Homo sapiens: one gene and its partner. The protein of the gene in region 1 interacts with the protein of each later gene in a pairwise test. Each region holds a gene or a part of one and is shown in the gene's direction. Other genes may lie near its edges.

Region 1 (3,500 bases):
CATTAAAAATACAAAAGCAAAACCAAATTTAAACAAAACAAAACAACCCAGGAAACTTGAGAAGTAGATGTAGATTAAATGAATTTCCTTTAGATAGGTCAACATCAATGCTGTGGGCTTTCCTAGACTCTATGGAAATTCTTGACTAGGAGAATCTAGAATTATTAGATGATAATGTCCAGAAATACCTAAAAGAACTGAAAGCATTTATTCTGAAAGACCTCTTTCTAGCAGAAGGCCAAATAAAATTTTCTATTCCCTTGTTTATTCAGGATTCTTGGGAACTGAATTATTTCCAGTAAATAAATTTTCTAGACAGTGGAAGCTTATTCCTGTAACCACCATAACATTTTGCATTTTAATCATTTTGATATAATTCTGTCTGGTGTATGCTGCTTAGTTTATGGCTTTCATACAGAGTTACATTGAAAACAATTCAGCCAATTTGCTAGGCCTTGAGTCGTCTTCATTGATATGTTGTTGTTTAGTTTTTTTTTTTTAGCTCTGCCTAATAATCTCAGTACCATTTGCCTTCTAAAGATGCAGACAGCTGTACGCTTACATAGGTCTTTTAACTTTTCATTTTTTTTTCTCTTGTTTTTTTTTCTCACTGCCAGGGTGTGTCCAGTTTTACTTTTTATTACAGAAATGTGCATGATTGCTTTCCCCATCCCAAAACACCTTTCTAATTTATTAACTTACAAATTTTATGTCCCAGGAAACCAGAAACCCAAGCCTGTTACTATTTTGTGTAAGGAAGATTAATAGGCATTGAATAAAGTCATGTACTTAGTAATAGGTTTTTTGACCATTCAAAGCCTTTAAAAATTTACTTCCTGGTTGCAGGCTGTTATTTGGTAGGTGTTTAACTCTGGGCAAAATGCCATTTTATTTATAAGCTACAGTGCCTATGATTTTCCATTCTGGCATTGGTGCCTTCCTGCTGCTCCCAAATTAAGAAGAGAAATTAAGTTAAAAAAATCACATGACCTCTGTACAGTTGGTAAAAGTTTTGTAAAATGGAATTTGGATCTTTTAAATAGAAGGAGATGTAAAATACTGTATTCTTAGATATCAGTTTATAAATGTTTTTCCATTTTTATTACAGAGACATATTGATGTCTTTGACTGTTGGAAACCTTGCAGAGCAAGAATTTGTAACCATTGCACGTCACTACCGTGTGCCTGAGGGCACATGTTCAGATATGGATTTCTTAATCGCACTGGCCCACGAAAAGTTCAAGAAAAATATGTTTGAGAATTTCGACACTTTCATTTATTCCTGTGTGTATGAAGATCGAGAAAAGTAAGCTTTTGTTTTATTGATTCTAATCATTTACATTTCTGTGAACCTGAGTAATGAAGGAATTTCTATTTTATCAAAAAGTGCAAAAAGAAAATAGACATGTGTCATCATACTCATACTCTACTATTTAGCACAAACACCTTAAATCATTTTCGGAGAAGTATTTAGGTACAGATATTTCCCAGTGATGGAGAGCTTGTGTGTGTGTGTGTGTGTGTGTGTGTGTGTGTGTGTGTGATATGGCATCTGGCCCTGTCGCCCAGGCTAGAGTGCAGTGGCGCAACCTCGGCTCACTGCAACCTCCACCTCCCAGGTTCAAGAGAGTCTCCTGCCTCAGCCTCCTGAGTAGTTGGGACTACAGGCTCGCACCACCGCACCCAGCTAATTTTTTTTTTTTTTGTATTTTTAGTAGAGACAGGGTTTCACCATGTTGGCCAGGCTAGTCTTGTTGACGGAATAGGGGAGGCCCTGTATCTTTGAAAGAATAGGCTTCTCCCTTGCATGTTCTTTTCATTTGTTTCTAGAAGCTTTCAACTGAAGCATAGTAAATCAAAATGTTAGGAGGGTTAATTCTGAGATGTCGTCTTTTTACATTATTTTAGTACTGATGGGGATTTATAAATGTAACTTTTATAATAAATAGAAAATGGAATTTTCAAGCAAACATTCTGTAGAATTTCTTTGAAATTATTTCTTCTTGAAAATAATGAAGTTCAGTATAAGCTATTTCTTATACATTGATTGTGTGCGTGTTGAGCTTCATTAAGTCATTGTTACATACAACTGGATGCAAACAACTTAATGTGTTTTTTTTGCATTCATCTTACAGACCTTATACAGTGGGGAGAAATATAAATTTACTGATTTCATCTGGAATTAGAAAAATCTTAGTTCTTGCTCTAGCTTCTAATCCGTATTGCTGCACACCACTGCCATCTCTCTTCCTTGTGACTTCTTGCCTTATCCCCAAACTTGAAGTCTGAACCCAAGTGGCCAACTGCATTCCCTGAATATCTGTGTAGGTCCCATAGTTTGTCTTAGAAATAATCATTTTTTTTATTAATCCATAATGCATCCTCTTTGAGTTTTTATAAAGATGGTATTTTTCCTTGACTCTTTAAGCTTTCCCAAGCTTCCTAGAAGATGTGTGGCCTGAGTTTTGCATGGCCCTGGCCCTGCCTTCCACCCTGGTGTTGCCCCCTTCCCCAGAGTGAGAAGTGTGGCCCTCCTTCATTCAAGGAACACTTCTTAGGAACAATGGGGCTGCTTGACCAGATAGCCTGAGGTTCTTCCAGATCCATCAAGCTTTGATTCTAGATATAAACATTCTCATTGCAAAGAAAAGAGCCAACTTTCTTTCCTGTTGGTTCTAATTTTGCCCGATGCCTGGAAAAGTGTTGGCTGAATGAGAACATTGGACAAGAATGTCTTTGCCCCCATAAGACTGGAGAAAATGACTTTTGGGCTGCTCTAGAGAAAACTGCTAGCATCTGAAAAAATTGAAGTGAATATTGAGGCCCCAGCTGGGGCTTCCAGGTGATAAGGTTTGGGTCCAAGGAAAAGAACAGAAAAACACCCTCAAGTCATATCATACTTGTGTTGGAGGCTCTAGATGCCTGTCAAATTAAGAGATGTTTTCAAATATCAGAACCATTTTTGACTAGTGGTCAAGAATGCAGATCAATTACTTAGAGCAACACTTGTGGCTGTAGCCTTAATAGGCTGTACTGTCACCAACCAAGAATCTGCATCTTGAAGGAAAAGCCTTTGTAAGGATGGAGTCTGGTGGCCTCTGAAATAGAAAAAGTTGATGAAATGAAATGTGACTGTTCTTCCTTATTGTGAATTCCAATACCAATTTTCATACTTCCATGTGTACATTCTCAGGAAACATCACAAATGTATTTTCTTTCCTATAGTATGTAATTATTACTAAAGGTATACAAGGTATATAAAAGCTCATTTACGTTGTTTTAATGCAGAAAAAATGTATTACCCACCAAAGACATTAAAAGGCTGTGCAAATCCTCCAGATTACCTTTGAGTGATGATCTTCTAGAATCCTTATTGTCAAGGTAAGTTAGAGTTCCACTCTTGATAGGGATTGTCCTGCATAGTTTTATTTGGGGGACCATTCCTGGTTTTACATCTCCCTTTAATTACCCTTGATTTACCCTTAACTGTTTTGATTATA
Region 2 (2,895 bases), on another chromosome or scaffold:
TCATTTCCAAAATACTGTTTTTCAAATGGCTGCTTAAAATTGCCTGCAAATGAATATGCTATATGATTTGGGCAAAAACACAGCAGAATCAATGAGTAAATTTCTACCAAGAGTCGGGTTTGCCACAGAGATGTGAATATTAAACTAAACTATTATTTTTTAAAGAATCCTCACATGCCTAGAGCATTCTGACCTCTTCTTGTTTAGAGTGATAACATTTTTTCCCAGACAGATGACAGCAACAAGATAGCTCTACTTTTTTATATGGAAATAACATTATGTTACTGACAAGGTCATTTTCTACCAGAGACAATTAGAGGACTGGTACTTTTCCTAAGTTGTGTATTACTGAGTCTTGGAGTCATCTCTGAGAGCAAATGTATGTTCCTGAAAAGCTAATTTTACACCTCATTTACTGTAGATAACAGAACAACCTCAATTTTTCAAATTTTTGAAGTTTTATTTATGGGGCTAGAATTCCCATGCATAGAGAATATGTGTAGGGAGCCAGAAACTCTTTCTATGAAATGCTATACAAATCTTTCCATATGTGGGTTCACTATCATCCTTCAGTTTTAGCACTGGCATTTGCAAAGCCAGAACAATAACTGAAGAATGTACAATAAAAACTAGAATGCTGGGGTCCCACTTTTTGTTCTTACATTTACTGCTGACCCAGGTATCTTTGGCCCAGTCACTTAACCTCTCTGTGCCTCAGTTTCCTCATCTGCAAAATGGGGTTAAAATGCTTTTTCATAAAGTTTTATTTGCAATTTTAGAACAAGAGGTGCTTAAAGTAGCACAATGTGCTTTGTAATTATTACAAGTGCTGTATTATTTGACTTTCTTGTGTTGTTGACAAAAAGATTCCCTCATGTAATAAAATAGTGCTTCAGTTTGGTTAAATTTAAGCACTATAGCACTGAAGCTTGCTTATCAAGCTACTTGGGACATTATTAGCAATAAAAATTGAGAGATTCAAAACCAGGATCTTTAATAATCTATAGGAAATAGATCATCTCATGCTATTGAACAAGATAGAAGAGTGTGTCATTTCTATGATAAGCATCTCCCAGCTCTCTTGATTGCATATGCATGCCATCATACAGAACCCCACTTTTACCACAGGAGAGCCAGTCATTAAACAAAGGCTTGGAGCAAACTGACAGTATCACATAATTAGCTTGATTATCTTTTATTCTGGAGGAAAGCCAGGTGGTATGCCCTACTGGGAAGATACAAAACAGACTATCCTGCTGTATTCTTTTTTTTTTTTTTTTTTGAGATGGAGTCTTGCTCTGTTGCCCATGCTGGAGTGCATTGGCACAATCTCGGCTCATGGCAAGCTCCACCTCCTGGATTCAAGTGATTCTCCTGCCTCAACCTCCCTAGTAGCTGGGATTACAGGTGCACACCACCACACCTGGCTAATTTTTGTATTTTTAGTAGAGACAGGGTTTCACTATGCTGGTCAGGCTGGTCTCGAACTCCTGACCTCAAGTGATCTGCCTGCCTCAGCCTCCCAAAGTGCTAGGATTACAGGTGTAAGCCACTGTGCCCGGCCTCCTGCTGGATTCTTTATTCAACTAGGTAGGTTCCAGATTAAATATGAGCCATATGCTCATTAGGCAAGAAATGTGAAAGAGGGTGCCTCTACAGTGTTGGTGACCCAACACTAGCCAACTTGAGTCAGAAAATATGGAAGAGGATAAATTACTCTCACATATCTAAGACTTTTCCATTTTTCTTCACTTTCTGTTGCAGGGCCCATATGAGTAAATCTATATTCCGTCTGCTCCAACACACACCTTCCTTCTCTTAATTTTGCTTTCCCACCCACCAAGAAATTTGTAAGTCAAAATTTATTTCCATGAGTAACTATTTCTAAATGATTGAAAATTTTTGAAAAAGTGGTATGGTTTATATACCTAATCTGCTTATCTGCTATAAGTCATATGAGAACAACAGCTAGGATGATTGTCCAAGCAGCTTTAGATGTGTTTAGGGCCAGGCAAAAGGTTTGCTTGTTTTTTCTTTTTGCTTAAGATCTGGGAGATTAGCAAATTTCTCAAGACTATAGACTGAACTGTAATTTTTACCAACTCTTGCTCATGAGCCTCAAAATGAATATATCCTTGAATAAAGTATAAATATTTCAATAGATACATCTCTCTATTATCCATTTTCACAATTATAAAAGCATCAGCAAAATTGTGGATATGTGTTCCAGTCACTCATGGATCCATGGAAATGGACCGTGTTTAAATGAATGCTTCCCTTGGATGGGATGTTCAGCAATAGCAAAAAAAAAAAAAAAAAAGTTATCAATAACTGAGATTTCCTGTGGCCCCACTTCTGCATCTGTACTACCGAGATGCATTTGGCTACTGAGTTTGTAGCAGTCAGAACAGCATTCTTCCGGGTTCATTAACTTAATTTTTCTCAATAAAATATTCATACCCTGGAAAATAAACATAACTGACTACTAAAGATAATTTGAGATAAATAAAAGACCCAATTTAAATAGTTATTCAGGATAGAAAAATTTCATGAAAGAGGGGAAAAACATAGAGAGACTATCTTTGACTATCATACTTAAAAAGCATCTATTACTAAATTGAATGTCAAACTTTTCTTTAATGCCACCCTACTTTTAGGAAATAGAATTTGCTGAAAAAAATTACAACCCTTCTGACTTATGCTATATAAATTAAATTATTACCAACAGTTAGGTTTTAGGGGTGGAAGAATAGATCTTGATTTAATTTTTTTTTTTTTTTTTGGCCCACAAATAACTGCTCATACAGGTTGTATGTGTCTTCCCAAGTCCATAAGGTAGAGCTGATATAGAAGGCCTGGGTTATCACTTAGGTAGAGAGCAAATGTGTTCTCCAC

What was found.
Region 2: the proteins of EFHC2 (region 1) and JAKMIP2 interact in binary tests that used the Homo sapiens proteins (3 or more experiments, as listed by UniProt).

Annotation. Positions count from the first base shown.
Region 1 is NC_000023.11:44,176,173-44,179,672, reverse strand, and holds part of EFHC2 (EF-hand domain-containing family member C2), read left to right. Parts: intron 1-1,108; coding exon 1,109-1,306; intron 1,307-1,464; coding exon of another isoform or gene 1,465-1,466; intron 1,467-3,288; coding exon 3,289-3,381; intron 3,382-3,500. UniProt on the Homo sapiens protein: Microtubule inner protein (MIP) part of the dynein-decorated doublet microtubules (DMTs) in cilia axoneme, which is required for motile cilia beating.
Region 2 is NC_000005.10:147,587,834-147,590,728, reverse strand, and holds part of JAKMIP2 (janus kinase and microtubule-interacting protein 2), read left to right. Parts: 3' UTR 1-2,895.